3 separate regions of the Homo sapiens genome follow, and all the other regions are linked to region 3. The links come from fine-mapping of genetic effects on gene expression. A gene starts in region 3. Each other region holds a variant in brackets. All regions are shown on one strand. Distances are between the middles of the regions.

The links. PIP is the estimated chance that this variant, and not a neighbour inherited with it, causes the effect. A credible set is the group of variants that fine-mapping cannot tell apart.
Region 1: its variant is the best candidate, but not a certain one, in a credible set for the expression of RIPK1 in tibial nerve (GTEx, PIP 0.78).
Region 2: its variant is the best candidate, but not a certain one, in a credible set for the expression of RIPK1 in anterior cingulate cortex (GTEx, PIP 0.88).

Annotation. Positions count from the first base shown.
Region 1 is chr6:3,082,305-3,092,722 of GRCh38, forward strand. It overlaps RIPK1 (receptor interacting serine/threonine kinase 1), which reads left to right. Exons shown (of 11, transcript NM_001354930.2): 5 at 781-1,009; 6 at 2,955-3,104; 7 at 7,277-7,353. It also overlaps the pseudogene RNA5SP201. Among named protein-coding and RNA genes, the nearest start is that of RIPK1, 19 kb to the left of the region's middle. The variant C/T (reference allele first, on the strand shown) is at 6,402.
Region 2 is chr6:3,536,504-3,546,921 of GRCh38, forward strand. No RefSeq gene overlaps it. Among named protein-coding and RNA genes, the nearest start is that of SLC22A23, 85 kb to the left of the region's middle. RefSeq lists an enhancer at 3,627-4,127. The variant C/G (reference allele first, on the strand shown) is at 6,039.
Region 3 is chr6:3,062,826-3,073,243 of GRCh38, forward strand. RIPK1 (receptor interacting serine/threonine kinase 1) reads left to right here and starts at 5,669. Exons shown (of 11, transcript NM_001354930.2): 1 at 5,669-5,836. RefSeq lists silencers at 815-864, 895-1,184, 1,375-1,484, 5,538-6,327.

The DNA of each region.
Region 1 (10,418 bases), 19 kb after region 3:
CCCTCTTATGTCGTGGGTTAGAATCTGTGAATTTTAGGTACTCATGTGCCACAGTTCATCCCCACATGCTTGCTTGGATTCCTGGAGGCAGAAGTGGAACTGGCACCTATATTCTCTTCTGAACTGTGCTGCCCTGTCATTTTGCCCTGCCAGCACTGTTCTTGTTCTGTGTCTGACCTTGCTATTTTTCTCTCTGCTTTTTTGTCTGTTTTTCTCCTCCTTTCCACCCTATCTCCTCTTAGGTTCAGGCTACAGCTCAAAACAAGCAACACTGCAGTCCTTATCCTCAGTGTGTCTTTGGGATCCTTGGACACTTGCATCCATGGGCCTCTGGACGCCATTTGGGGAAATAGAAGGTGTAGTATTTAGCCACTGTCTGCTGCATAAATGTGCAGAGAAGAAAATAACCATTTTCCCCCCAAGCCCTAGAAATAGTTGAAAAACATACGCAGAGTCAATGGGGAATGAGAATAAATATGTTTGGTTGTTACTGTTCTTGTCAGAAACATCTTCCGCTTTTCCCCTCCCCCTTACTGCATAAGGAATACGATACCAGAATTTCATGTGAACGTTTCCTGGGCGACATTTTACAAATGGCTGAGGAGACACACAGTTTCTATGAGTCTGTTGAGAAGTCGCTGTTTTGAACCTGCCCAGTGCAACCATTTCTGGAAAATTTACCGTACCTTATGTATAATGGATAAGCCCAAAATTGAAAGTCAGATCTGATTTGCTTACGGCCTTCACCAAACAATCCCAGTGGCTCAATGTCTTTCGCAGATCGCAGACCTCGGCCTTGCCTCCTTTAAGATGTGGAGCAAACTGAATAATGAAGAGCACAATGAGCTGAGGGAAGTGGACGGCACCGCTAAGAAGAATGGCGGCACCCTCTACTACATGGCGCCCGAGCACCTGAATGACGTCAACGCAAAGCCCACAGAGAAGTCGGATGTGTACAGCTTTGCTGTAGTACTCTGGGCGATATTTGCAAATAAGGAGCCATATGAAAGTAAGGCATTACTTACTTTCCACTGCCGTCCCCTCAGCATCTACACGCACTGTGCCTGGAACTAATAGGTGCCCAGTAAATTTTTGTTGAATGAATGAGTAATCCCATTTAGGAATCAGTGATCATAGGATGAATAGGAACCTCGATAGTGTGTCATTAGCTGGAGAGGTGCTGTGAAATTCCAGGGTTCTTCCTAGACAGGAAAGTTGATTGTTTCTGCTTGTGAGGACTTAGCCTTTCACACTACAAGGCATACACTTCATACTTTCACTCATTCACTTGCTCCTTCATTCAAGAATTATTTCTTTTCAGTCCCTACTGTGGGCACTTGAGTCGGCATTGGGAATATAAAGATGAGTAAGTCGTGGCTTGTGTAGGATAGAGACACTCTGCAGTTTGTTAAGTGCATAAACTGATGGATGTTGTCCTACATACTCTTCTTGGGTGATCATCAGCTCCCATGGTTTGATGATCATCTCTTTGCAAATGCTTCTTAAATCTGTGTCTCTGGCTCTGGAATGGATATCCACTTGTCTTACAGTCAGATCCATCGCAGGTACCAGAGGAACCTCCAAAGCAGCATCCCCCAAACACATCCTGTCGACACTGTCCTGCAGCTCGCCCCGCTTCACCCCTCTTCATATGCTTGGGAAGTGGCATCGCCATCCTTTTACCAAGTTGTTGCCCAATAAGAAACTTCAGAGTCATCCCAGACTCGCCCTTGCCCCTCTCTCCCACATTCTATCAGATCTCAAAACCTGTGAATTCAAGATATATGTATGACTCAAGATATATCTGCAACCCATCTGCCTTTCTCTGTCTCCACTGGCCTCTGCTCAGTTCAAACCCTCCTCGTTTCTGCAGCAGGCTCCTTCCACCGTCCACCATTCATGTGGCAGCCAAAATGGTCGTCCTAAAAGGCACATGCAACCCTCTCCCTCACATATTGGAAATCCTTCCCAGATGCTCTGTGGTCTTCAGGATGAAGTTCGAATTCCTCAGCGTGGAATAAAAGGCCTTCATGTTCTGGCCTTTGCTTCTCTACTGGCCTCGTCCCTAACCCTCCCTTCTTTGTCAGTGTGCAGTTACACTGAGGAATTTGTGGGATGCGTCATGATCTCTGTAACTTCTAGTCTGTTGATATCCTGCTTCTCTTCCTGGAGTCCTCCTCCTTAAGTCTCCCTTTCCCATTCTTTACCTGCTAATTTTTCTGGACTCAACAAAGCCTTCCTGGACCTTTTTAGTCAGGTTTGTGCTACTGGAACCCCTTGTACATCCTTTTTTTTTTTTTTTTCCCGTGAGACAGAGTCTCATTCTGTCGCCAGGTTGGAGTGCAGTGGTGCAGTCTCGGCTCACTGCAGCCTCCACCTCCCAGGTTCAAGCAATTCTTCTGCCTCAGCCTCCCGAGTAGCTGGGACTACAGGTGCACACCACCATGCCCAGCTAATTTTTATATTTTTAGTAGAGACGGGGTTTCACCATGTTGGCCAGGATGGTCTTGATCTCTTGACGTCATGATCCGCCTGTCTCAACCTCCCAAAGTGCTGGGATTACAGGTGTGATCCACCATGCCCAGCCTCAGCCTTCTTGAATAGCAATGATCACTCTGTGTTTTAAGTCACTCTCATTAAACTGAGCTCCTAAAGACAAGGACTGCCCTGTATTTGCTTTTGCACATGGAGCATGCCATTGGCCTTGCCCACATAATCTTTTTGTTCCATCAGCAGGCAGCTTTGTCGAGAATTTTGTTTTATCTGCAGACATTAAGATATTGTTTGGTCATCTCTGTAGTGGAATATGTCAGCTCCTTGTCATAAGGCCATTCCACTCTATGGAATGAGGCAGCTGTACCAGAGGCTGAGAAAAATGAGCAGTATTGTTCAAGTTCTGTCACCTTCCTGCCTGAGAGAGGAGCAAGACCTGAAAGAAAGTCTTTGCTTTGTAGATGCTATCTGTGAGCAGCAGTTGATAATGTGCATAAAATCTGGGAACAGGCCAGATGTGGATGACATCACTGAGTACTGCCCAAGAGAAATTATCAGTCTCATGAAGCTCTGCTGGGAAGCGAATCCGGAAGCTCGGCCGACATTTCCTGGTAAGAGCATCTTTTCTGACTGTGTAGGATGCATCCTGTGTGGTGATTTTCCTAGTAACATATTGTTAGGAACTTGGTTTGAATCCTCAGAAAACTGAGTTCGACTTGACTTGTGGTTTTAAACTGATTTTCTAGATTTCAAACATGTTATTCAGTGCAAAGAAGCCCTCTCTCTCAAAAGCATGATGGCACATAAGGCCTTCTTGTTTCCTTTTTTTGTAATTAACTTTTTAACTTGGGTTTAAATATACGTAACATGAAATTTAACATTGTAACTGTTTTCAAGTGCACTGTTCAGGGGCAGTAAGTACAGTCCCATAGTACATTCACTTTCCATCGTCTCTCTCCCTGCCCCTGGCAGCCCCTATCCTACTTTCTGTCTCTGTGAATTTAACTGCACTGGGTGCCTTATATATAAGTGGAATCATACAGTATTTGTCCTTTTGTGTCTGGCTTACTCCACTTGGCATGATGTCCTCGAGGTTCATCTGTGTTGTAGCATATGTCAGAATTTCTTTCCTTTTCAAGGCTGAATAATATTCCATTGTATGAATGGAGTGCATTTTGTTTATCCATTCGTCCGTCTATGGGCACTTAGGTGGCTTTGACCAGCCTTCTTGCTTCTTCACTTCTTTTATTTCCATCCCCTCCCTTGTTTAGCTGGCATCTTTAGAAAGTATTTTGCCGTCTAGATTGGCCTTGTCATACAGGGATGAGGAAAGGTGCCGGGATGTTTGCTGAGCAGTATTCTATGGTGTGGATGTACCACGGTTTGGTTAACTACTCACTCCTTGAAAGACTTGTTTCCAGTTCTTAACTGTTGGGACTAATGCAGCTGTAAATATTCGTGGACATGTTTTTGTGTGAATATAAGTCTTCATTTCTCTGGAGTAATACCCAGGGGTACAATAGCTAGGTTGTATGGTAGTTTCATGTACAGTTTATTTTAAAAATTCCCTAACATTTTCCCAGAGGGGCTGTGCCATTTTATGTTCGGTGTCCGAGTGATGCAGGTTCTTGTATCCTCACCAGCATGGGGTACCCAGGCTCCTCACACTTCTGCTTAGTCAGCTACAAATTTATTTGAGTATTCCCACAAGCCCCACTTCAGGTTTGGTAATTCGTTAGAAAGACTCACATAACTCAAGAAAACATTTTACTTACGTCTCCCCTTTTACTGCAGTGGGTACAATTCAGAAACAGCCAAATGGAAGAGATGTACAAGGTGAGGTATGGGAGGAGGGTGTATAGAACTTCCATAGCCTTTCAAGACACACCGCATTCCAGTGCTTCTGTGTGTTCAGCAACCTCAAGCTCTCCAAGCCTCACCGTTTAAGGTGATTTATGGAAGTTCCATTACATACGCATGACTGACTAAATCATGGTCATTGGTGCTTGAGCTTAATCTCCAGTCCCTCTCTCCTCACTGGAAGTCAAAGGTGGAGCTGAAAGTCCCAACCTTCTAATTATAGCTTGGTCTTTCTGGTTGCTAGCCCCCATTCTGAAGTTGCCTAGTTTTCTGACCCCACCCAAAAGACACTCTTAGAAGACTCCAAGGATTTTAGGTGCTACCTGCCATGAACAAAATCAAACCTTCCTGATTCTCCAAGGTGTCTTCTTTTATTGTTTCCTTTCTGTTTAGAGAACTTTCCTTAATCATTCTTTTAGGATATGTCTGAACTCTGTCATTCTAAAATTTTTTTCCTTATAGGGAAGGTGTTATTTTTCTCTTGCTGCTTTCAAGACTTTGTCTTTATTTTTCAGAGATTTAGTTGTTATTTATCTTGGTGTGGATTCCTTTGGGTTTATTCTGTTTAGGTTTTGCTCAGCTTCTTAAATCTGTAGGTTTATGCCTCTTAAACCATATTTGGGGAGCTTTCAGCCATTATTTCTGTAAGTACTTTTTAACCCCCACCCTCTTTCTCTTTTCTTTCTGGAATTCTGACAACATAAAAACTATATCTTTGGTTATGGTTATAGTCCCACAGGTCCCTGAGGCTTTGTGTTTTTTTTGTTTTTTTTGTTTTTGTTTGTTTTTTTCAGTTAATTTTCTCTCTCTTATTCAGACTGGGTAAGTTCTATCATTCTGTCTTCCAGTTCACTGATTTTTCTGTTTCTCCTCGATTCCACAGTTGAACCTGTCTACTGAGCTTTTTTTTTTTTTTGACACGGACTCTCACTCTGTCGCCCAGGTTGGAGTGCAGTGGCGCAAGCTCTGCCTCCTGGGTTCACGCCATTTTCCTGCCTCAGCCTCCCGAGTAGCTGGGACTACAGACACCCGCCACCACACCTGGCTAATTTTTTGTATTTTTAGTAGAGACGGGGTTTCACCGTGTTAGCCAGGATGGTCTCCATCTCCTGACCTTGTGATCAGCCCGCCTCGGCCTCCCAAAGTGTGGGATTACAGGTGTGAGCCACTGTGTCCGGCCTACCGAGCTTTTTATTATGTTTTGGTCATTAAAGTTTTCAGCTCTAAAATTTATATTCTCCCCTTTTTTGCTGAGACTTTCTATTTTTCATTTGTTTCAAGCAGGTTCATAACTATTAATTGAATCGTTTTTATCATGGCTGTTTTAAAATCCTTGACAGGTAATTCTGACATTGCTGTCATCTCAGTATTGGCATCTATTGATTGTCTTATTTCATTCAGTTTCTGATTCTTAATGTAATGGGTAATTTTTCTGTTGAAACTTGTACATTTTCTTCCTATGTTTGGAGATTCTGTATCCTCTTTAAGCCTTCTGTTTTAACTGAACTTTCCTGACACTGCTCTGACAAGGGAAGAGTGGTGGCCACCTTATTAGTGCTGGGTAGAGGTAGAAGTTCAGCCTCTCGACTCAGCCCTTATTGACACCTAAGGTCAGAGGCTCCTCTTCACTGCTGATCAGGGGTGGGAATTCTGGCAGAGTCCACACGGTCCCCACTGACACAGAGGTGAAGGTACCTCATTACTACTGGACAATGTTAAAAGTCCCGATTCTCCACTAGACCTCCTCTGACACTTCCCCAGTGGGGAAGGGAAGGGTGGTCTTGTTACTGCCATGTGGGGCAAATCCAGGCTATTCTTGTGTTCTCCTGACACCATGGGAGTGGAGGCGCTCATTATCAGCTGGCAGGTAGGACAGCCCTGGCTTCCTGTTGGGCCTTCTCTGACATTACCCCGGTGGGGGTGTTGGGTTACGTTGTTACTGTCTCATGCGGTTGGATGTTGAGGCTCTCCACTTGGCCTTAGCTGCTGTGGGTGGGGTTGGAGCCACAGGGTTTTTTCTGTGGTGGTTGGCTGGAACAGAGTGGTTG[C/T]TGACTAAAAGTTTTCTCCTATCCAAGTACTAACCAGACCTGACCCTGCCTAACTTCCAAGATCAGACAAGTTTGGGCATATTCAGGATGGCATGGCTGTAGACTGGCTAAAGGTTTTCTGTCTGTCCCTTGCTGCCCCTTGCTTAGTTCTTTGGCTAGAAAGAGCAGGCTTTAGTTGGAGATTTTTTTTTATCTGTGGCTCTTGATGGTTTGAGGTTGCCACCTTTTCAGCCAAGTCTGAGATATATGAGGAAAAGAGAAAATCCAGTGAACTCACTATCGTGTGTTTCATCTGATCCCGAGGTTTCCTGCTGGTCTGCCTCCTTCTCTTCTCCTTTCAGAGACTCTGTATGTTTGTTTTATAAATAATATATAGGATGTTTTTGTTGTACTTAGAAGGAAGATTAAGAAAAAAGTATGTCCACTCCATCTTCCTGGAACTGGAAGTTTCTTTTTTCTTTTAAGGCTAACAGCTGTAACCCATTACACTAAATCCTTCCTCTGACTATCCCAATCTCTCATAAATTTGATGCCAGAGGAACAGAAACATGGAGTTCGCCCATCCCTGTTCAGCTGGAGATGAACTCACATCAGGGAGCAGTTTGTGTTGCAGCCAGAGAAACTGCAGCACGAATAAAAAGCACAAAGAGCACAGGCTATTGAGGCAGAAACCCCTGGTTTCCTGTGTTAGCCTATCCCTTGTTCTGTCTATTAATCTTATTAGTCTCTATCAGAGTCAGTGATTTGGAGCTTAAATTTTTATTTAAGCTTTGCCCACAGATTGAGGTAAGTAATTCAAAGATAATAGATGGCTAATATTTTTATTTTATGTTAGAAAATAATTAAGAAATTTAAAGTACATTTTACTTTTACAGGCATTGAAGAAAAATTTAGGCCTTTTTATTTAAGTCAATTAGAAGAAAGTGTAGAAGAGGACGTGAAGAGTTTAAAGGTAGGCAATATAGCAGATGCTCAAAATATTAACATAGCAAAATATATACTGTCAATCATGAAAACCAAAACAAAGTGATTTGTTATTGAGATTTGAGGTAAGCTAGCTTGGTAAACATATAAAACAAAATGAGCAATTGTCTGCACATATCATCCTGTTGGCATACTGGACCCATTTCTCCTTCAAAACTCATGAAATGAGAGAAAACATATATAGCAATATGAAAACAAAAGCACAATGTCACTGGCAAAGATTGGAAAGTACCATAAGTGGATCAGCCATTTTGAGGAATTCTTGAAAGATAGAAAGACCACAGAATTATTCTGCTGAGACATATAACAGACAAGGAATACTAGCCCAAGACATAATGCTGAGGAAGAAGTACCGGAGGGGCAGTCTTGGGTCAGTGTGCAGAAGCAACAGCACAGTCACCTGGGATGTTGACAGGGGAGTCATCTGAGAACCTCATTTATGCTATTTAGGAAAGTCGGCTTCTCTCCCTCCTTCCCCTGTACTTAGCAACAGATGGCAGCAGCATCTGCCCAAGACTGAAGCAAGGAGGTGGTTTCTGGGGTTAGAGGGGCATGACAAGGCCCAGTTAGGAACCAATCAACTAAGAGGAATGGAGACCACCCCGCCCCCCTGCCAACTCTGGAATCAAGCTACTGCCATCCATCTTCCAGCAACCTACCCCATAATCATGAACAGGAGACTACGACAAATAAAACAGGCAGAGACTTTAAAATATAATTTAAAAAAGAGATTAGAATCAGCTAAGATAAACTCTAAGGCAAAAAATCATTCCCTCAAACAATCAGGAATATTTCATAATGATAAAAGGCCCAATTCATCTGGAAAGTATAACCGCTTTAAATGTGGATCCACCTTCAATAACATGACCTCAAAATCAACCAGCCAAAAGTGACAGAACTCAAAGAAAAACAGACAAATCCACAATTAAAACTGAAGATTTTAATACACATCTCTCTTCAATTGATAGAACGAGCAAACAAAAATCAGTAAGGATATAGAAGACAGAAAGAACATGACGAACACACTTGACGTAACGGAAACACAGGATACGCTGCACCTAATAACCGCAGCGCACCTACCTGCCGCACCTAGTAACCGCAGAGCGCCTACCTGCCGCACCTAGTAACCGCAGCGCACCTACCTGCCGCACCTAGTAACCGCAGAGTACCTACCTGCCGCACCTAGTAACCGCAGCGCGCCTACCTGCCGCACCTAGTAACCGCAGCGCGCCTACCTGCCGCACCTAGTAACCGCAGCGCGCCTACCTGCCGCACCTAGTAACCGCAGCGCGCCTACCTGCCGCACCTAGTAACCGCAGCGCGCCTACCTGCCGCACCTAGTAACCGCAGCGCGCCTACCTGCCGCACCTAGTAACCGCAGCGCGCCTACCTGCCGCACCTAGTAACCGCAGAGCGCCTACCTGCCGCACCTAGTAACCGCAGAGCGCCTACCTGCCGCACCTAGTAACCGCAGAGCGCCTACCTGCCGCACCTAGTAACCGCAGAGCGCCTACCTGCCGCACCTAGTAACCGCAGCGCGCCTACCTGCCGCACCTAGTAACCGCAGAGTACCTACCTGCCGCACCTAGTAACCGCAGCGCGCCTACCTGCCGCACCTAGTAACCGCAGCGCGCCTACCTGCCGCACCTAGTAACCGCAGCGCGCCTACCTGCCGCACCTAGTAACCGCAGCGCGCCTACCTGCCGCACCTAGTAACCGCAGCGCGCCTACCTGCCGCACCTAGTAACCGCAGCGCGCCTACCTGCCGCACCTAGTAACCGCAGCGCGCCTACCTGCCGCACCTAGTAACCGCAGCGCGCCTACCTGCCGCACCTAGTAACCGCAGAGCGCCTACCTGCCGCACCTAGTAACCGCAGAGCGCCTACCTGCCGCACCTAGTAACCGCAGAGCGCCTACCTGCCGCACCTAGTAACCGCAGAGCGCCTACCTGCCGCACCTAGTAACCGCAGCGCGCCTACCTGCCGCACCTAGTAACCGCAGCGCGCCTACCTGCCGCACCTAGTAACCGCAGCGCGCCTACCTGCCGCACCTAGTAACCGCAGCGCGCCTACCTGCCGCACCTAGTAACCGCAGCGCGCCTACCTGCCGCACCTAGTAACCGCAGCGCGCCTACCTGCCGCACCTAGTAACCGCAGAGCGCCTACCTGCCGCACCTAGTAACCGCAGCGCGCCTACCTGCCGCACCTAGTAACCGCAGCGCGCCTACCTGCCGCACCTAGTAACCGCAGAGCGCCTACCTGCCGCACCTAGTAACCGCAGAGCGCCTACCTGCCGCACCTAGTAACCGCAGAGCGCCTACCTGCCGCACCTAGTAACCGCAGAGCGCCTACCTGCCGCACCTAGTAACCGCAGCGCGCCTACCTGCCGCACCTAGTAACCGCAGCGCGCCTACCTGCCGCACCTAGTAACCGCAGCGCGCCTACCTGCCGCACCTAGTAACCGCAGCGCGCCTACCTGCCGCACCTAGTAACCGCAGCGCGCCTACCTGCCGCACCTAGTAACCGCAGAGCGCCTACCTGCCGCACCTCGGAACCGCAGAGCGCCTACCTGCCGCACCTCGGAACCGCAGAGCGCCTACCTGCCGCACCTCGGAACCGCAGAGCGCCTACCTGCCGCACCTCGGAACCGCAGAGCGCCTACCTGCCGCACCTCGGAACCGCAGAGCGCCTACCTGCCGCACCTCGGAACCGCAGAGCGCCTACCTGCCGCACCTCGGAACCGCAGAGCGCCTACCTGCCGCACCTCGGAACCGCAGCGCGCCTACCTGCCGCACCTCGGAACCGCAGCGCGCCTACCTGCCGCACCTCGGAACCGCAGCGCGCCTACCTGCCGCACCTCGGAACCGCAGCGCGCCTACCTGCCGCACCTCGGAACCGCAGCGCGCCTACCTGCCGCACCTAGTAACCGCAGCGCGCCTACCTGCCGCACCTAGTAACCGCAGAGCGCCTACCTGCCGCACCTAGTAACCGCAGAGCGCCTACCTGCCGCACCTAGTAACCGCAGAGCGCCTAC
Region 2 (10,418 bases), 470 kb after region 3:
CGTATATGCCCACCATCACAGTCCCCAGAAACTGTCCAGCCTTCCAAAGAGCCACAAAAGACCCAGCAAAGTCTACATAACCAGCGGCCATGTTGTACTTCTCAGGGTGGGAAGAAGAAACCATATTTCAAGTGGCATGATACTAAGAGATTGCAATTTATTCATCAGAATAAAAGGCCCATGTTGTCATGTCAAGAGAAAGTTGGCCCCATTTAAGTTTGGAAGTGACGTTAGGGAAAAGAGATTCTAGTTTGGATTCTTGGGTTAGAACAAGTGAAAATTGCCCTCATATCCTCTCACTCTACTGTTAATCTAATCTCACTGGTTCATTGAGGCATAACTGAGGATCTTACTAGGGACCCAAAGCTGGAAATTAAATATTTATTTTCCATGGAGGCACATACATTCCGGTGCTCGACCATCTGGGTCGAGCTCTGCCACCTGCTAGCTGAGGGACCTTAAGGCAAGTTAATAAACCTCTCGGTGCCTCAGGCTCCCCCTCTCTAATATGGGAATAGTGGTGGTTTCCAGCTTGGAAAGTTGTCTGAGTATTTAATGAGCTGGTGGATGCTGAGTCCTGAGGGCCTGGCACGTGGCAGAGTCCACAAGGTTAGCTATTATTATGATTTCCTGCTTATCTGAATGAGGAGTTATCCCAGGATCAGGGAGTTTGTTAAGACATAAGGAGGGGAACATCACACACGGGGGCCTGTCGGGGGGTGGGGGACAAGGAGAGGGAGAGCATTAGGACAAACACCTAATGCATGCGGGGCTTAAAACCCAAATGATGGGTTGATAGGTGCAGGAAACCACCATGGCCCGTGTATACCTATGTAACAAACCTGCACGTTCTACAGATGTATCCCAGAACTTAAAGTAAAATTAAAAAAAAAAGATATCACACCCAATGCAGACAATAGTTCTAAAATAAGACCATGCCTTTCAGCTGATAGGTTACCTTAATGACATTTTCATATTTTCAATGTAGGACTTTTACAACTGTTATCAAAAAAAGGGGCTCCTGAGCTCTGGCTGTCACCATGGACGGGGGTGATGCATAATGTCCAGCAGGTGCTTCAGAAGGGGGGCTGTGCTGTGGAACCCAGGGCCCCGTGCCAGCTCCCCCACAGTGCTTTCTGTGTCAGGAGAACTTGGCTCTGCATGGACTGGACAAGCACAGGTGGCCTGGATGGACCCTTTCTTATCTCAGGCCTTGGTCTTCGCTCCTCTTCAGGCCTTATCACAAAGGCAGGAGCGGGACATGTGTTCCTCATTCTTACTACAGGCTTGTGTACAAGCTATTGGTGCACAAGTCTTCTCTGGCTTCTCGGAGGACATAGATGGATTTCCCATCTCCCCAGTGGCTAACCCTTGGCTTTGGGACGATATCTAGAGGAGTGCAGAGGAGGATACATTAAAGAGCGCTCTGGCATACAACAGGAGATCAATAAATTGACATCACATAAAGAAAGCATTCAAAGTGGATGAAAAAGTCAGTGAGACACTCAGAGGTGGAGCTGTCCCCAGACCCCGTCTGAAATGGCTACCTGGTGACATGGTCCTAGAGAGGTGTCTGTGGGCTTTTGAACAAGCATTAAAAATCCCACGTTTCGGATGACCTCCAGGATCCTACCTGAGAGTGTGTTAAGGGCCCCCAGCCCCAGGGGCAGCTCTGAGGGTGCAGCATGGCTGGGATGAGAAGACTGGGGTTCAGGGAGGCATGCTCGTGTGCTTATGACCCACATTCACATGGAAGAAGAAGGTGAAGTCCTAGCAGGGCATTTGTTTCCCTTTCTCCTGGAGTGACGTATTCACAAAGGGTCTGCGATGAGCAGGGAGGGTGCGTGGGGGTGTGCCAGCCTTGTCACTGTGCTCTAGTGGTTGTGGCTGGCCACTCCACCTGCACTCGCCCTCTGTGCATACATTTGCTTGTGGTATAACCTGAAGGAATATCAGACCCTCTGCTCTTAGGAGCAGATGCTTTCCCTTTGGGTTTACTTCTGATTCCCAGGTTCAGTGACAGCTCTCAGGAAGCCATGCCAACAGGGACACACACCACTCCAAAGCAGGGCATGGCCCCCAACAGGAATGACAGACAAGGGCTACAGGGACAGGGTGAAGTCAGCCAGGAAACCGACATTTCCATGGACACAGAGCCCAGATGGAGCACCATCTTATCTTTGCTATTTCAGGCCGGTATTTTCAGGAAGTAAAGTGTACAAATTATGGACAAAGGCTGCAGGTGTGCAGCCATAGGGCAGAGAAAGGATCTCCACTCTGGTGTGGAAAGGAAATCACATTGTTTGACAAGGGTTAGATCAGAGAGAGGCAGATATGTGCCTCAGCCCCGCTTGCATTCCTAGTCATGGTTTACTCCACAGGAGCAATATGGATTCATCCCAGGAACGCTCGTTTTCTTCGTTCTTTGTTGTAACAGGAGCATTATTGTGAGTGGGGTGAGGGGAGTTCAGAGACTTCACAGTTCTGCACCAAATCTCTGCCCCGTTATCTAAAACCTTTGCAATGGTGGGGAAGTTGCTCAACTTCTCTGTTCCTCATGGTTTTATTTGAAAAGCGAGGATAGAAATATTCTCTCTGTGGGTGGGGTTTATACCTCAATAAAGCTGTTTAAATGAGTAAAATAAAATCCACCTTAAAAAAAATGAGCCGTGTTTTGTGAGAGTACCTACCTAGCGTGATGCTTGGGATGCAGAAGGAACTAGATCTACTTTGGCTCAGCTATTGATGGTAATTTTTTGTTGCCTCTTTTGCCGTTGGATGCAAACTTCTTCTGGGAGTTTGCTTCCTTCTCTTCCTTCCCATTTCCCTCTTATTCATTTTTCTCCTACCTCCTCCCCTGGAGGAAGCCAGAATATCTTAGTCCTGAGGAGCTCTAGTCCACTGGAGAGGTGGGTGACGCAAGCTCACTTTCACTCTGCATGATCCCTGGGGATCTCAAGGTCTGGAGTGGGTCCGAGTTGAAAGGAAGATCTGCAGATGTCAAGCCCAACAACAAGGCCTGCTGACAGGAAGGGCGAGGGGAGACAGTCAGGAAGCCTGGAGTGGCCTGTTCATTTATTTCTATCCCCTACCCAAATATCTTTTAAATAATGCTTCTCCCCGAGTGAATTTGCCAGGAGTGAACTATTGGGGGGATGAAATGTGCAGTAATACTGTCTCATTGCTTTCCATAGCCATTACCTGCCAATTCAGGATGTTTGATAGGTCTTAGGCAAAGAAAGAAAAACAAAAGTCTCTTGCGACCATTGGACAGCCACTGACAGAAGAACTAGGAACTGAATGTGAGTTGGTAATTAAAGGGCCCAGAAAGAGGGAAAACTCAAAGGACTCCAGGGAGTATGGAGTTGGGATTTCATGAAAGAGAGAAACTGTCTTTCCAAATGTTTGCCAGGGGCTGCTTTTTATACCTCTCCATTCCCTGATTTGAAAAAGCATAAGGTGTACAAAAGAGAAGGGAAAATATCCCTGCCCAGTGTGCCTTGGGCCTCACTCCCCTGTGTCCAGTCCCTCTTCCCAGGAGTAAAGCTTTGGGAATCTTATTAGACTTTTTACTCAGACTACAACTCAGAAGCGCAGAGAAACATGTAGATTCTTTGCTCTATCGACATCTAATTTTGTCGTCCTACTGAGCCCTACCCACTGCTTAGCAGGGGAAACATTTCTAATGATGCTATATTTTTAATTAAAAAATTATTTAAGTTAATGTCTAATGTGGCCCAAATTTTGATCTGAAAATGTAAACAATTTCTTCAGGTAATTTTCACTTTCTTAAGGCAAAACATGCCCAGACTTATGAATTGCCTTCCCCTCCCCATTTCTGCTGGCTGGGTGGAAAAGCAGGGGCAGTTAATGACCTCTTGCAAGACAGAAGGCCTGGCACTCTTGGGCTGTGTCCCCATGTGCCTGCTGGCCACTTCCCCCTGGCATCTGCAGCAGGCACCTGGAGTGTCACTCACAGCTTGGTCCTCCCCTGGCTTGTGCAGAGCCTAGGAGAGGCTTCCCCTGGCAGAGGAGAGCTCATCTCAGCACCACCGTCTGCAGACCCCCAAACCTCTCTCTATCTTGTCCACCATCCATGCCCCTCACCTGGAATCCCCACATCCCGCCATAGTAGGCCTGTGGCCGGCCAGTGCATGTCCACCCAGTGTCAATGCCGCATGACGCTGAGGCCAACCCAGGGCTGCCCTTGCCTGTGTGGCTGTGCCCCCCGGGTTGACATGGCCACTCCTGAGGCTGGGGAGTGAGCACTTCTTTTTTCTTTTTTGAGACAGAGTCCCGCTCTGTCGCCCAGGCTGGAGTGCAATGGCACGATCTCGGCTCACTGCAACCTCCGCTTCCCTGGTTCAAGCGATTCTCTTGCCTCAGCCTCGTGAGTAGCTGGGATTACAGGCGCCTGCCACCACGCCTGGCTAATTTTTGTATTTTTTTTTAATAGAGACGGGGTTTCATCATGTTGACCAGGCTGGTCCTGAACTCCTGACCTCAGGTTATCCACCCACCTTGGCCTCCCAAACTGCTAGGATTACAGGCATGAGCCACTGCGCCCAGCCGGGAGGGAGCACTTTGCAAAGTCCTGGAGAGGCAGCAGAGGAAGAAGCCTGCTGTAAAAGTGTCACTTTCATTTAGTGAATGTGCTTCTACCGCTCTGGGCTCAAGCCAAGAAAGGAGAAAAATAAGACCTGGACTTCTGACCCAGAGGCCCTTCTCTCTTCCTTTCCTGTCCTCCGCTCCTCTCTCCTACCTCAAACCACCGTTTGCTGAATTGCAAGTCTCCTGGTTTAGCTGACAGAGGGACTAAAGGAAAGACGCCTCTTCTCTCCAACACAAGAGAGCCCTCAGGGGGATAAAAACCTCTGGAGCATTCTCTTTCAAGACAATAACCCAGCTTACAAATTATCTTACTGATTAGGCTTATTCTGCGTGACTATTTGTTTGACGAGAGTTAGATCAGAGAGAGGCAGATACGTGCCTAGGCCCTGCTTGCATTCCTAGCCATTCCTATCTTTTCTCTTTGTATTCTTCCTGCAGCAAACCCAGATCTTGTCTAGGGATGGGATGCTAATGGTTTATGTACTTAGGCAAAAGTGAAAAATTCATCAAGAATATTTCAGATATAATCCTGGTAGCTGTGTGTGTGAATGTATGAGTGTAAATACGTAACACTTTAAAACAACAGACTTACTCTAGACGTAAGTTCTGCAACTTGCTTTCTTCACTGAATAAGTCTTTCCCATCTTTCCATATAGGTACTTGTAGACCGGCTTCTTTTTAATGGCTTCATGCTAATCCTTCGTAAGGACACAATATACTTTATTTAACCCCTTTCCTTTAATTTTGGATGTTTCTAGTTTTTCTTTTTTTTCTTTTTTCCTACCAAGAACAATGATGGTGAGGCTATGCTGGTGCATTCATGTGTTGCTTCCTGCCTAACTCCCCAAATGCAAAGAGAGTAGGCGCCTTATCTGCCTTTGTCACCACCTGCCTGGAACAGAACATACAAACAGATGAACAGAAGTGGATGAACAAACACAGTAAATGGATTCATCCTAATGGATGGAAGGGTTTATCTTTTTGTTCTCATGCACATTTCTGCAGAATACATTTCTAGAGGAGGAGCCATAGAGTCAAGGGCTCTGGATCCTTACATTTTACCGTGTGTCACCACACTGGGCTCCAAGCCTGTGGTACTGATTCACCTGTCCTCCAGTGGGTGGAGTACCTAGAGAGCCTGCAGCAGGGCTGTGTGCAGGTGGCTTTGGGAAACAATTCCAGGGAACGGGAGTGTGAGAGAAGGAAGGTAGTCAGAGGCAGAGGGGAAGCCAGTTCAGGGGAGAGTTACCAAGCTGATCCCCACTGAGGGCATGGAGAGCTCCTTCCCCCAGAGACCTTCTGAGGCACTGTGTAGAATGTGCCTCAGCATTTTCCCCTGGGCCACGCACAGGAAGAACATGTGCGTCCACCTTCTGAACCTCAGCAGTCAGAGATCCCTGGACATAGGTCAACAGCTTGCAGCCGAC[C/G]CTGGGGCGCCCTGGTTTATAAAGCAGTGAGGTGGACCCTAGCTGTGTAGACTCCCCTTAGCAGACTCTACTGAAAGCCCAGCACTGGCAAGAGGGGGCAACTCTACTTTTGCTCAGCTATTGATAGTGATTTTTTGTTGCCTCTTTTGCTGTTGGATGCAAACTTCTTCCTGGAGGAATCGCCAAGGGAGGAGGGTGGAGCCCCCACCCCACGTGCTGAACACACAGTGTGTGTGTGTGTTTCTGGGGATCTATCTGTGGATTTCTCTCTCACCACCAACCTTGATGCCACCCACACCATCCCGTGGAGTGACAGCTGAGGTAAAGGTGAAGCTCTAAAGTAGCCCATAGGGCCGAGATTGCATGTAGATTAATTGCAGTTGAAAAATCCCCCAGACTGACCATAGAGCACAGTGGATGGAATGCTGGACTCAGTGAGGCCTGCGGAGACCATTTTCCCTCCATCATTGGATTTAATCTGTTTTTCCACTTCAGTACTTGGGAGCGGAGGGTTGTTTTCTTCAGGGGCGGTGTTGTATAAAATATACGTATTTAACATTAGACCTACACTCGGTTCGGTGAGTGTCTCATACCACGCAAAACCCGGCAACCAAGGCTTGCAGGATCAGTGGAACTCCATCTTCTGATGGTGTCCACGCCAGGTGTGGAGGGCAGGTTTGCTGGCACTGTCTGTATTATAGTGTGCTGGGGCTGTGTAACAAATACACAGACTGGGCAGCTTCAACAACACACATTTACTGTCTCACAGTTCTGGAGGCTGGAAGTCCAAGATCAAGGTGTCAGGGGGGTTGGTCTCTTCTGAGGCCCCTCTCCTTGGCTTGCAGATGGCTTTTTCTCCCTGCACCCTCCCTCTGTGCATGTCTGTGTCCTCATCTCCTCTTCTTACAGGACACCAGTCATGTCGAGTTACAGTCCACCCCCGTGGCCTCACTTAAACTAACGCCTTGAAGGTCCTATCTCCAAATACAGTCACTCTCTGAGGTACTGGGGGATGGAACATCAACAAAGGAATTTTGGAGAACATGATTCAACACATCACAGTGCTGAAATCTCTCAATCTTTCTCCTCAGAGACACTTATGAAATCTCAATTGAAATCTCTCAATCGATCAATCTCTCCCTCTCTCTCCCTCTGTCTCCATCTTTCTCCCTTTCTCTCTTTTCTGCTTATCTATCATCTATCAATCAATCTATCCATCTGTCTATTTGTCTGTCTGTCTATCCATCCATCCATCTATATCTATCATCTATCTATCTATCTATCTATCATCTATCAATCATGCACCTACTTATATCTATCTATCCTGTATATCTGTCTATGTCGTATCTCTCTACCATGTATATCTACCTCTGTCTATCATTTATCTTCTGCCATGTCTATCTACCTATCATCTATTATCTAGATATCTAGCTATCTTTTCCTCTGTCTATGTCTCTTTCCCTACTCCCCTTTCTCTCTTTCTCCTCAGAGACCACTTATGAAAGGAGGCCACATGGATTTCCTTATTTAATTTTCACAACACCCTAAAGATAGACATTATTCTCCCCATTTTATATATGAGGAAATGGAGCACCTTGAGGTTAGGTAATTATTCCAAAATGACACAAATTAAGTAAGCAGGAAAGCTGGGATTTGAGCTTGCATAACCTGACTCCAGAATCTATGCTTGGAACAGTAAAGGAGGCTGCTTTTTGAAGTATTTTTGACAATTTTTGCATTTTTTTGATAAGAGTTTTGGCCACATTCCATGGACTTTGAAATGTAGAGTTCTTTTTTATGTTATCTTCTAATTAATTAATCTTAGTATAATTATTTAATCTTTAATTTGAGAGTTATTTATAAATGCTTTTAAATTTCTAGGTTAGATGTGGAGGGCTATATTTTGTTGCCAGAATGTGGTATGTTCAATTGCTATTTATCTATCTTTGCCTCTGAATTTGTCAAGATTTTCTTTAAGGCACAGTCTATGAACAATTTCTATAAATTATCCATTAACATTTAGAAAAGATTTTCTGTTTTGTACAGAAATAGTATGTCTACTAAACAAAGCTTATTGTGTAAGCAATTCAAATGCTCTAATCGTATTAACTCTTTATCTAATGAAATTATTAAATTTAGATATAAGTGTTTTAAAGCTCATTGTGATTTTACCAAAATAACCTTGAATTCCTAAATTATTTTTCTTTCAATAGAAGTAGGTCTCTGCAATGTGATTTGGTGTGTAAGTGTATATGACTGCCACAATTTCTTTAGAGATATTATCTTTTATCAATAAAATTCCTCAGCCTTATTTGATGTTTTTGACTATAAAATGTGCTTTGTGTGATGTTGGTATTTTTGCCATTTGTCATTGTTAGCATTTTCCTGATATATCCTTGCCCACTTCTTTATTTTCTACCTTTTTCTCTTTATCATTTTGTTTTAGGTATGTACCTTAAAATACCATTTAGCTAATTTTTGCTTTTTTATGTTGTTTATTCTTTTATTTTCAAATATAAGACATAGCAAGGGCAATAATTTGTTCCATGTACATTATTACTTATTGTGATTAACGTCATATCCAATCTTTCTCCTGCCTTCTTATTTTATGTTTTCTATTCACTATGATTTCTTATTGCTTCCTCTTTTCACCTTTCCTGCCTCTTCCTTCTTTGATCATTTTTTGTCCTTTTTTCTTCCCCTAGCAATATGAAATATTACATCTAAGTGTTATTCTAACAGTGGTCACCTTTATAACAAATGTATTTTATTCTACATGATTCTATCAAAGTTAAGTAAACATTATTCATAACCACCAGCCCTCATGTAAGCCAAGAATTGTAACATGCACTTACTTCCCTTTTCTTCTCCTTATCACTTGGGTTATCCTAAATGATCTAGAATTTAATTCATATTTCTCCCTCTAGTATCCATTCCTTAAAAAATAGCCTTGGGGGCTGGGCATGGTGGCTCACGCCTGTAGGCCTAGCTACTTGGGAGGCTGAGGCAGGAGGATTGCTTGGGGTCAGTAGTTAGAGACCAGGCTGGAAACATAGTGAGACCCCATCTCTACTAAAAAAATTGTTAAAAATGAGGCTGGCATTGTGGTGCATGCCAGTCATTACAGCCACTCCAGAGGCTGAGGTCACCTGAGCCCAGGGGTTCAGGGCTGCAGTGAGCTATGATCCTGCCACTGTATTCCAGCCTACACAACAGAGTGAGATCCTGTTTCAAAAAAAAAAGAAAAGTTTAAAACGCATTAATTTTCAATATTGCATGCAATGAGAATTTGGAAGTTGCAAGCAGTTTCAATATCTTAGGGTGGTGTATAAGTCAGGATTCTCCAGGGAAATGAAACCAATAGTATATAATGTGTGTGTGTATGTATGTGTGTATATTTATAATATATATATACATATTTATTATTAGTATATATAATATAAATACATATAATTGTATATTATATATATGTGATTTATTATAAAATATTGACTCAACCAATTATGGAGGCTGAGGAGTCCCATGATCTGCAGTCTGCATGCTGGGGACCCAGGAAAGCTGGTGGTTTAGCTGGAAGGGCTGAGACCTGGAGAGTCGATGGTGCAGATTCCAGTCTGGGTCTGAAAGCCTGAGAACTAGGAGCACCAGGGCAGGAAAACATCAATGTGCCAGCTCAAGCAGCCAGGCAGAGAGAAAATGCTTTCTTCCTCTGCTGTTTGTTCTACTGAGGCTCTCAATGCCTCAGATGAGACCCACCCATCTTGGGGAGGGGAGGGCCCTCTGCTTTATACAGTCCACCAGTTCAAGGCTAATCTCTTCTGGAAACACCCTCACAGACACACCCAGAATAATGTTTAACCACACATCCGGGCACCCTGTGGCCCAGACAAATTGACACCTAAAATTAACCATCACAGGTGGAGAAAAAAAATCATTTTTGGTCAAATACTACTCTTTATCCTGGGATAAAGAGCCCCTTTAAAAGTCAGGTAAGAAAAGTATCTGCTCATTAGGGGAATTTGACCGGCCCCAAATTTTATTTTCAACAGTGTTCTTTTTAGTGTTCAGTTCCTTGATTTAATGTTGTACTTCTTCGATGATCGTTCTCTCCTCTACAACTATTTTCTGTATACCTAGTTGGTTCTAGGAGTTTTTGTTGTGGTTTTATTCTTTTAGGTGTCACTGTGAATACCAGTCAGAATTTATAAAAGATATCTTCTGTTTCCTACAGTAAATCTTTTTAATTGAAAGTCCTTCAGACCAATTGCCTGGTTTAATTTCCTTTCTGTTTGCTCATTCTCCTCAAGAGTCCAATAAGTTACCTTTGCTTGATTATATTCATAAATTACAGTCTAGCCTGGTAGGACTCCATCAGCATCT
Region 3 (10,418 bases):
TGGGATTACAGGCGTGAGCCACCGTACCCAACCTTAATAAGAACAAGCTAGGCACCTAGGGTGTCAAATTGAAGGAGGCTCTGATTCTCAGGGCCGCGCAAATGCAGGGTTGGCACCTATGCGTGTGGCCCTCCTGAAATTTTGTGCCTTAGGCACCTGGCTTGCTTCTCCCTAATTCAGGCCCTCAGGAGAAAGCTCTAATTCTGGTCAATTTGAAACAGGAGGGCACGGCTTCTGGGCGACGCTCCGTGCTCCAGAGAGAGCCATTTGTCTGTTCCCTTCCTCTGGACGTCACCGTGCCAACATGAAATGCTTCCAATTGAGTCCAGCCTGAGATGGAAGGGGGTGGGGGGATATCTGATGACATCACGAACTGCTGCATCAACTCCCCCGAGTCCCTGCCTCTGGATCCCCTGATAGAGGACACAAGGAGTGTCCTGAGCCCGTGTGACTCAGTGTCTCTTCCCATCACTTTGCGGGAAAATGGGGCTGCTTACACCACACCGCAGCCCAAACACCTGTGGCTAGAGAAGGGCTTGGGTACTAGGAGTGAGGACGCCTGGTTCTGGGCCCAGGACTAGTACTAGTTAGTGGTGGGACCTGGAACAAATGCTTTGGTTCTAAGTGAATCCCCCATATTCATGACAAGAGGCGTGGAACACAGACCCATGGGGCCTTCCCACTGGAACAGGGAGCTTGGCTGTCACCCGACCTTCGCTTCCTTAAGTAGAAAAGCCCAGGGTTCCAGGCTCCGTCTCCTTTCCCGCAGACGCCTTGTTTCTTCGCGCGGAGGCCCTGGACGCCGCAGGCTCCCAACCTACTTCTCTGGGCTGTCAGGTTCTGAACCCGGTCCTGAAGAGGCCCTGGCGCCGGGGGTGGGTGAGGCCGAGCGCGCGCCTTGGGAACCTGGCCGGCCTCAGGCTGGCGGGAGCATTGGCGGACATCGCCCTGGGCGGGGCGGACTGGGGGTAGACGGATCTGCCTCTGCGCCTAGCCCTGCCCTCCGCCGCCGCGCGAACGCGCGCGCCTCCCCGGCTAGTCCCGGCAGGCGGAGCCCCAGTTAGACTGCTCGTCAAGTGTGGGAAAAGCTCCGTGGCGTCACAAGCTACTATATAAAAGGCGGTGCCCGCCGGGGCCGAGTGGGAGTCCGCGGCGAGCGCAGCAGCAGGGCCCGGTCCTGCGCCTCGGGAGTCGGCGTCCAGGCTCGGAGCGCGACACGGAGACTAGGTGGCAGGTGAGGACGTCCCCGCGCACGGCCGGGGTGGAGCACGGGAGTGGCGAGCTTCAGGTCCACCGGCTGCCACCGAAAGATGGGACCTGAAGACAGGAGAGGTCGCTCAGCCAAGAGCCCCGGGGAGGCGGTGGTGTCTCGGCGGGGTCAGCAACGGTCTGTGGGGGGTCCCCTGCAGCGCGCAGCCGGTTTCCGCCTCCGCAGCTCCCAGCCAGCGCGGACGCCGCCCTCCCCGGCGCCTCCTCGCTGCCCTTCCCTGGCCGAAGCCCTCCCCTGCAGCCTCCTCCCCACCTGCCGGCCCTGTGTTCTCACTGCTCCTCTCTGCTCTGGGATCCGCAGGATGACGTCTGTCCTGGTTCTTCTTCTGTCTTTCAAAGTCACTAGTCTCCAGTTCTAAATCCGAGCACTCTTACCCATTCTAATTCTTTCAGTAACTCAGCGAAACGGATGGGGCCCTTCCTTCCCCGGAGCACTCCTCCAGGGACTGAGAATCTGCAGAGCCAGGCTCAGCGCTCGCCTGCAGAGCCTGCGGTCTGTGGGACCCGCCAGCAAGATGAGGAATCACTTTCGGGAGGAAGGGTCGTGCTGGGGAGGGTCGCGCCGGCGGGGTCAAGAGAACCTCCTCTAGGGTGGGAATCAGAGCCTCCGGGCCGCGGTGTTTGAGGGTGAGTGGAATTAATCCCGTGATGGACGTGGGGCCTTCTAAGGGGGACCAGGAGTTTGCGAAGAGGTGACTTTGGGAGGGGTTCAGGATGGCCAGAGGTGGAGGCTGTGACCTCAGTGAGGCTGGATCAAGGGAGGGGCAGGTGGAGAAGAAACCGTTTTAACGAGGTGGCTTTAAGCGGATCCTAAGGGCCCCAGGAGATTTAGGAGGAAGGACAAGAGGATTAAGACACCGCTTTCTGGTCGGGTGCGGTGGCTCACGCCTGTAATCCCAGCACTCTGGGAGGCCGAGGCGGGCGGATCACGAGGTCAGGAGATGGAGACCATCCTGGCTAACACTGTGAAACCCCGTCTCTACTAAAAAAAAGAAAAAAAAGAATACAAAAAAATAGCCGGGCGTGGTGGCGGGCGCCTGTAGTCCCAGCTACTCGGGAGGCTGAGGCAGGAGAATGGCGTGAACCCGGGAGGCGGAGCTTGCAGTGAGCTGAGATCGCGCCACTGCACTCCAGCACTCCAGCCTGGGCGACAGAGCCAGACTCCGTCTCAAAAAAAAAAAAAAAAAAAAAAAAAAAGACACGGCTTTCTGAGGTGCCGTGCGGCTGTGGCGGGGGTGGCTGGGGGTGCGGGTTGTGTTCATTGTCCAAGGCTCTCCAGTGCTTTGCGTGGCGTTTTGGGGAGCACAGATGAGGTGTCCCGACAGTGGGGAGTGGCTCTAGGGAGACCAGAGGCTCGGGAGGGGGCCTGGGCATTAGACCAGGCACAGGATCCAAAGTGGGAAGAAATGTGGGCGTAGAGGGCAGGCCTTGGAGATGGGTGTGGGGGAGGAGGGGGAGATGGAAAGGAGTCAGGGAGGTCTCCCAGGCTCACCTGGAGGAGTCAGGGTCTCATTTCCAAGTGCACTGGGAACTGCAGCCTGGGGGTGGGGGTTCATTTGGTTTCAGGCCTGTGGCCAAGAGACCTACCCCCTCATATTCACACTTTGGCCTCCACGGGCTTCAGAGATAGTACCAGCTCTTTGTTCTCGCTGGTTTTCTTTCCTCACCTTGGGCTGTTTCTTGCCTTTTCCATTCTGGTGTTCTGCAAGGACCAGTTCCTTCATCTCATGCACAGTCTACACTCATGGCTTTTGCTGGGAGTAATGAGTAAAGCTCCCAAATAGATGTTTCTGAGTTAAAACACTGAACACAAAATGAAGCAAAAACAACGCATTTCCAACCTCCCAAGGTCACATGATGTCTAGAGGACAGTGATGGGCAATAACTTTTTGTCTTCCCCATTAGAATGCAAGCTCCACGAATGGAACGTGGAGTTTTTTATTTTTTATTGTTTTTTGAGACGGAGTCTGGCTCTGTCACCCAGGCTGGAGCAATCTTGGCTCACTGCAACCTCCGCCTTCTGGGTTCAAGCAATTCTCCCGCCTCAGCCTCCTGAGTAGCTGGGTCTACAGGCATGCACCACCACGCCCAGCTAATTTTTGTATTTTTAGTAGAGACGAGGTTTCATCATGTTTGCCAGGCTGGTCCGGAACCCCTGAGCTCAGGCAATCCGCCCGACTTGGCCTCCCAAAGTGCTAGGATTACAGGTGTGAGCCACTACACACGGCCAGAACATAGAGATTTTTTGTGTTTAATTCACAACCGAGTCTTCAGTGCCTAGAACAGGTGCTCAGTAAATATTTACTGAAGGAATGAATTCCTTTTTGTATTTCTTGTATCTATCACCAGATGCTCTTGTATCTAGTACCTGCTTGGCATACAGTAGATAGAAAGCTTTGCTGAGTGAATAGCTCTGCCTTTCGTCTTTTTTGATATGTGTACATCTTTTAAAAAATAATGAATAGACTTTGTTTTAGAGCTGTTTTGGTTTACAGCAAAACTAAGCAGAAAGAAAATATCCCCTTCCACAAACATCCTGGACTGTACAGCCTCCCCTACCATCAACATCCTGCATTACTGTGGAATATTTGTCACACCTGATAAACCAACATAGATTCATGGTTACAAAAATGAACCAATATGGATAAAACATATACATTATCAGCCAAAGTCCGGAGTTTGTTAGGTTTTGCTCTTTGTGTATATTCAAGATACATTTGACAAATGTATAGAGATGTACCCAACCCTGTAACGTCAGACTCCACTGCCCTAAAAATCCCTTGTGCCTCACCTATCCATCCCTCCTTCCCTGCAAATCCCTGGCAGCCGCTGATCTTTTTTACTATCTCCGTAGTTTTTCCTTTTCCAGAATGTCACATAGTTGGAATCATGCATTATGTAGTCTTCTCAGATTGGCTTCTTTCACTTAGATTTATACATTTAGGATTGCTCCAGGATTTTTTTTTTTTTTTTTTTTTTTGTGGCTTCAGAGCTCATTTCTTTTTAGCACTTAATATTCCATTGTATAGATGTACCACAGCTTATCTGTCCACCCATTAAGTGATATCTTGGATGCCCTCAAGTTTTGGCAATTATGAATAAAGCTGCTATAGACATTCTTGTACAGGTGTTTGTATGGGCATAAGCTTTCAACTCGTTTGGGTAAATACCAAGGTGTGGAGTTGCTTCATCTTATGGTAAGAAGAGCTTGGTTAAGAAATTGCCAAAATGTCTTCCAGACTCTAACATTAGGCATTCCCACTAGGAATGTATGGGAGTTCCTTGTGCTCCAGATCCTCATCAACATTTGTTGTTGTCAGTGTTCTGAATTTTAGCCATTCTAATAAATGTGTAATAGTATTTGTTTTTTTAAATTGCAATTCTTTAATGACATGATGTTGAGCATCTTTTCATATGCATATACATATGGTGAGGTGTATGTTCAGAGCTTTTGCCCGCCTTTAATCAAGTTGTACATTTTCATATTGTTGCATTTTAAGAGGGTTTTTTTTGGTATATTTTGGGTCACAGTGCTTTATCAGATATGTCTTTTGCAAATATTTTCTCCCAGTCTGTGGCTCGTGTTGTGAACGTGGCTAGTTCTCTTGACATACATATCTTTTCACAGTATGTAATCCTGTTGTGCTTTTTTTTTTTTTCCTTTTGAGACGGAATCTTGCTCTTGTCACCCAGGCTGGAGTGCAGTGGCGCGATCTCGGCTCACTACAATCTCCACCTCCCAGGTTCAAGGGATTCTCCTGCCTCAGCCTCCCGAGTAGCTGGGATTGCTGGTGCCCGCCACCACGCCCAGTTGATTTTTGTATTTTTTAGTAGAGATGGGGTTTCACCATGTTGGCCAGGCTGGTCTCGAACTGCTGACCTCAAGTGATCCGCCCGCCTTGGCTTCCCAAAGTGCTGGGATTACAGGCGTGAACAACCGCGCCCGGCCTGATGTGCATATAATTTTATTATTTGATTTTTAATATACATGAATAGCATGCAGTTCCAACTTTGCTCGAGACTTCACAATTACCATTTTAAAGGGCTGCAAAATAATCACATTTCCTCCTCAACAGCCCCACTTTACAGATGAAGGTAGAGGAATGCTAACTTGCCTATGCTAACCCGCAGAGCTCTGAATCCTCCGGATAGCGCCCCCGCTGTAATCCACCCAGTGCTTCCCTCCAGACCCTTCTCCCTCTCGTGCGCGCGGAGGTTTCGGTTTCCTCTTTTACGTAGGCCGCCCCACTCGCTTGAAAACAAAGTCCGCGATCCTCTAGCCCGCAAGAGAGCTCCGGGACTCAGACCCCGGGCGCGAGGTCCCACGAGCGGCGGGGCGGCGCTCTCGCGGTCCTCCTCCCCGGCAAGGGCCGGGGCAGGGGGAGGAGGCAGCGCGAACAGTCCACGCCCTCCAGCCGGGCGCGCTCGACGCGGACGGCGGGCCAGCTGCCGGAGCGCGGCGACTCCAGGGGACCCACAGCTGGGGCGCCAGAGCGCGGCCATCCGGGCGGGGCCGACGGAGCGCGGCAGGACTTGGCTGGACGGCGCGGCCACGGAGAAGGGCGCGGTGAGCGGACTGGCACCGCGCGGGGAACATTCCGGAGGCCGCCGGGCTCAGTCCCGGTGACCCCCCTGGTCGGGGTTCGCGCGCCCTCCCCCAGCACGCCCGGGCAAGGCTGCCGCGGCGTCGGAGTAATCCCCAACCCTCCGCCGCCGCTTCTTCCCTCACCCGGGCCTCCAGACGTTTGCCGCGGAAACGAAAGTAACGCTCGGGTGCTTGCGTGGAGGCCGGGGCGGCCGCGGGCTTCCCGGAAGGAGAGGGACTCTGCCCGGGGTGCGCGCGGCGGGCGGGCCCCGCCGGTACCGGAAGTCGGGCGGTGGGCGGGGCCGCGGGCGCTCCCGGAAGTCAGGGGTGCTCCGCTAGGTGTCTCTGCTTATCCGGAGTCCGCTGGCCGCCTCTGTGCCAGAGGTCGGGGCGCTGGACTGGTAGCGGGCGGAGACCTGCCTTTGGGCCGCGGTTACCGCGTGAGGGTGGAATAGGCAGTCCCACACGCCATTAATGTTGTTTTGGTGGAGAAGGTGGGCTCCTAGTGCCCTATCATTAAGAAAAAACAGTTTGGGCTCTTCCCTTACCAGCCCTTTGAAAGGGCCTTTTACTGTTGCGCTTGAGGCCGCAGCAGGTTCCAAAAACAAAAGCATTTCTGCGTGATCTTAGACGACTGAGGGGACGAATGTGGTAACCCTAGCAGGCTTCTGTCACTGGCAGGTGCTTTTGTGAAGTGCTGCGGACCCTCTTGAGGGTTGGGAAGAGGATAGGCTGCATCCTCCTTCCCTAAGCATTTGACAAAGCCTCACAGGGATGCGGGGGTTGCGGGGGCAGGGGGAGGTCTGGGGTTGTTAGTTCTTTCTCTCTTGCTGACCATTTGGCTCTCCCTTAATCAGAGCTCTTTTTTATTTTGGGCAAAGCAGGAGGCTGTTCCAATGATTAATTCTTCCCTGACTTACACTTGAAGAAGCCAAGGCAGGAAGTGAACTTTGAAATGTGCAATGTCTTAGTACTCATCTGCATTCTGTGACTGCTAGGAAGATGGACTGAGTCAAGAGGAAATTGTCTTGTTAGAAATGTGGAATACTGCGTCGGGCACGGTGGCTCACTCCTGTAATCCGAGCACTTCGGAGGCCGAGGTGGGAGGATCACCTGAGGTCAGGAGTTCGAGACCAGCCTGGCCAACATGGCAAAACCCTGTCTCTACTAAAAATACAAAAATTAGCCAGGTGTGGTGGCGGGTCCCTGTAATCCCAGCTACGCGGGAGGCTGAGGCAGGAGAATGGCTTGAACCCAGGAGGCGGTAGTTGCAGTGAGCCGAGATTGCCACTTACACTCTATCCTGGGCGACAGAGGGAGACTCTGTATCAAAAAAAAAAATAAATAAAGAAATGGGGAATACTGCAGCTCTTCTATTCACAAAAAGTGAAGACTAGGCTTGTTTAAAATGAAATTTGGAGTGTATCATTATTACTGATAAAATAGCAAAAATGATAACTTTTAATACTCATTTTCCTCTGTCTGAACTATACTGAGCCTCAGAGATATGTTGTACTTTCTGGAATGTGAATATTAATGAGTATTAAGAAAAGCTCTTAAACAGCCTCTTTCAAACTGGGCAGCTTACTTTTTGGTGCTTATTAATCTATAACGTGTTAACATCCATATGATCTGGGAATTTGAAGAAAATACTTAATTTCCCATGCTTTAGTTGGATATTACATTCTGGCAAAAAAGGTTGACTGTATTAATCTGTAGAACATTGATTTTGAACCATATATTTCAAAAATACATGAGCCGTGTATTTTTATTTTTGAGACAGAGTCTTGCTCTGTCACCCAGGCTGGAGTGCAGTGGCGCGATCGCGGCTTAATGTAACCTTCGCCTCCCGGGTTCAAGCAGTTCTCCTGCCTCAGCCTCCCAAGAAGCTGGGATTGTAGGCATGCACTACCATGCCTGGCTAATTTTTGTATTTTTAGTAGAGACAGGGCTTCACCACGTTGGCCAATCTGGTCTCAAACTCTTGGCAATCTGCCCTCCTTGGCCTCCCAAAGTGCTGGGATTACAGGCATGAGCCCCTGCACCTCACCTTCCTGTATTTAAAAAGTTTATTCTGTACTTTCTCCGTGTTTCTGACTGTCGCACATTTATTTAATATAGATGAGTAAGGCTGTAAGGGTGGGTCTTTGCATCTGGATTTTTCCGAAGACAGATTATTTGCTATCTAGAGAAGTAGCATGTATTAGTGAGCCAATAGTGAAAGTTTGAATGAAGGGACAAATATTTCATTCCAGGATCCTACCACTTTAGGTGAATCACTTAGCTCCAAATCTTAGTTTCTTTATTTGCAAATTGAAATCATGATAAAATTTGCTTCAGGGGTTATGATGCTTGTTTAAACTCTGTTTCAATTCTTGTCTCTTGCTGGTCCTTAAGTCTCTTCCTTGCTCAGAGCTTTTGTTTATCCAGGCAAAGCATCAGGCTGCTGTAATCAAGGAAGTTGGAGAAATCCTCTGGTCACTTGGATAGCTGAGCAAAATCAGAATTCTGTTAGTGGGAAGAAAGGGGGCAATGGCAGGTGGGCAACCAGCATTTTCTGCCATTCTCTTGTTATGTGTGGTCATCATAGAAAAATGGGGAAAAAGTTAATTAGAATATTTTGATATGTATACTTACCCTGCCTTAGAAGGTAATCGTGAAATTCCTTGAGATTTCACATTAATTTCAATAGAAACAAATTCACTGTCCTGAGTCCCTGAATTAATATTTATGCAAAACATTTACAAATTCCTTCAAATGGACGTAATTATTAGTTAAAATTATTTGCTATAACAGGCCAGCATGTCTTTGTCACTCTGTGTCATGGCTTTGTAATAATATGGTTATGCAGTATGGCCATATAAGCTGCCTAAATTCACTGTTTTTGTATATCCTTCAACTACTCACAAGGCCTTCCTAAGATATTCAGTGCTCATAAAGTTGAATCTTTCATGTGGAAAAAAGAGGGGTGGATAGGAAAAACAAAAGAAATCACTGAACACCATGCAGAAGATGCAGAAGATTAACAGACTAAACTAGCAAACCGCAAGACTGTAAGGAGAACTGACTTGGGTCAGGAGCTAAGCTCCCAAAGTCCAGTGGACCCAACTAGAGGCCTTCCCAAACTCCACCGCACACAGCAGCACCTGCAGGTCCTAGTTGGTCTTGACAAATTTGAGGAGATGTGGCTGAGACTGAAGAAGAGATACCAAATAGGACTCCTCATAAAGTAGAAACCTTTTACTCAAAAGGGCATTTTTCAGGGCATGTTGTAGTTCCTGCCTGTTTCTTTACTGTCTGTGACCTTTTTTAAATATTATTAAACATTCTTTCACAACATCGCTTTTGCAAACTGCTAGATATATTTCAGTGTTGATGGGCATAACTGATTCTCTCCTCTGTACATGCTAAGTGTTTTACCTACTTTTGCTGTTCTATGTAATGCTACCAGGAACAGCTTTGCACATAATCTTTATCAGCATCTCTGATTTGATCCCTCAGAGTAAAGAAATACTGAGTCAAGGAATTATTCCTTTCAAAAAAATAATTTTAATTTTACATTTAATTCATGTCTATTGTGGAAAATTTGGAAAACATAGTAAAAGTGTAAAGAAGAAAGTAAAAATCAACCTATCATCAAGATACAATCCTTGTTAACATTTTGGTGTCTTTATGTCTTTTTTATCTGTACTTATATCTTTATCTATTTACATATATATATATATAAAACACACACAAATGTGAATATAATTTTTACAGATTTATTCGTCAAAAACAATTTTGAATGGCTATATAATATTCTGTTAGGAGTGTGCCGTAATTCATTTAACAATATTTTTATTTTTATTTTTTTGGACAATTAAATAGTTCTCTTTTTAAAATAGTTATTCAATTGATGATGGGCCGGCATACGTTGGGTTCTGCTAGGCTCTGGAGATGGTGCACAAGACAAGTTTCCTGCCTTCTGTGAACTTCATGAGAAATAATTCTCAATTACAGTACTGTCTTACCTATGGAAGTGTCTAATGGGAAGACTTAGGATGGCTTCCTTGACAAAATGACAGTTCTCTGACACCTAACCAGGCAAGAAGTTGGAAGAATATGGCCTAAGAGGGTGGGGCGGATGACCCTTATGGAATGGGGAAGGCTTCACAGTTCTGCCTGCTCCAGTGATGTGTAGTGAATGAAAAAGGAGGCCTAAAATCAATGTTATCTTTTATGCCCTCTGTCTCCACCCGCTCCTACCTCATTCTCACTAGGATTGGTCAGTAGGGCCCTGCTGACAGAGTGATCCCAGCTGAGAATGTTGGCATTCTCAAAGCCCAAGGAAACAACACCCGTGTGGATAAACACATGTGGGCGGCTGGGCCAACCATAGCTAGAGACATAAAGCAGGCAACAAACGTGTTTTCACAAATATATACATATGTACATATATACGCATATACAAATATATACATATACGTATATACACATAGACAAATATAGCTATATATCTACATATACAATATATGCATACACACATACAAATATGTGTATATATACACACATATACATTTTTATA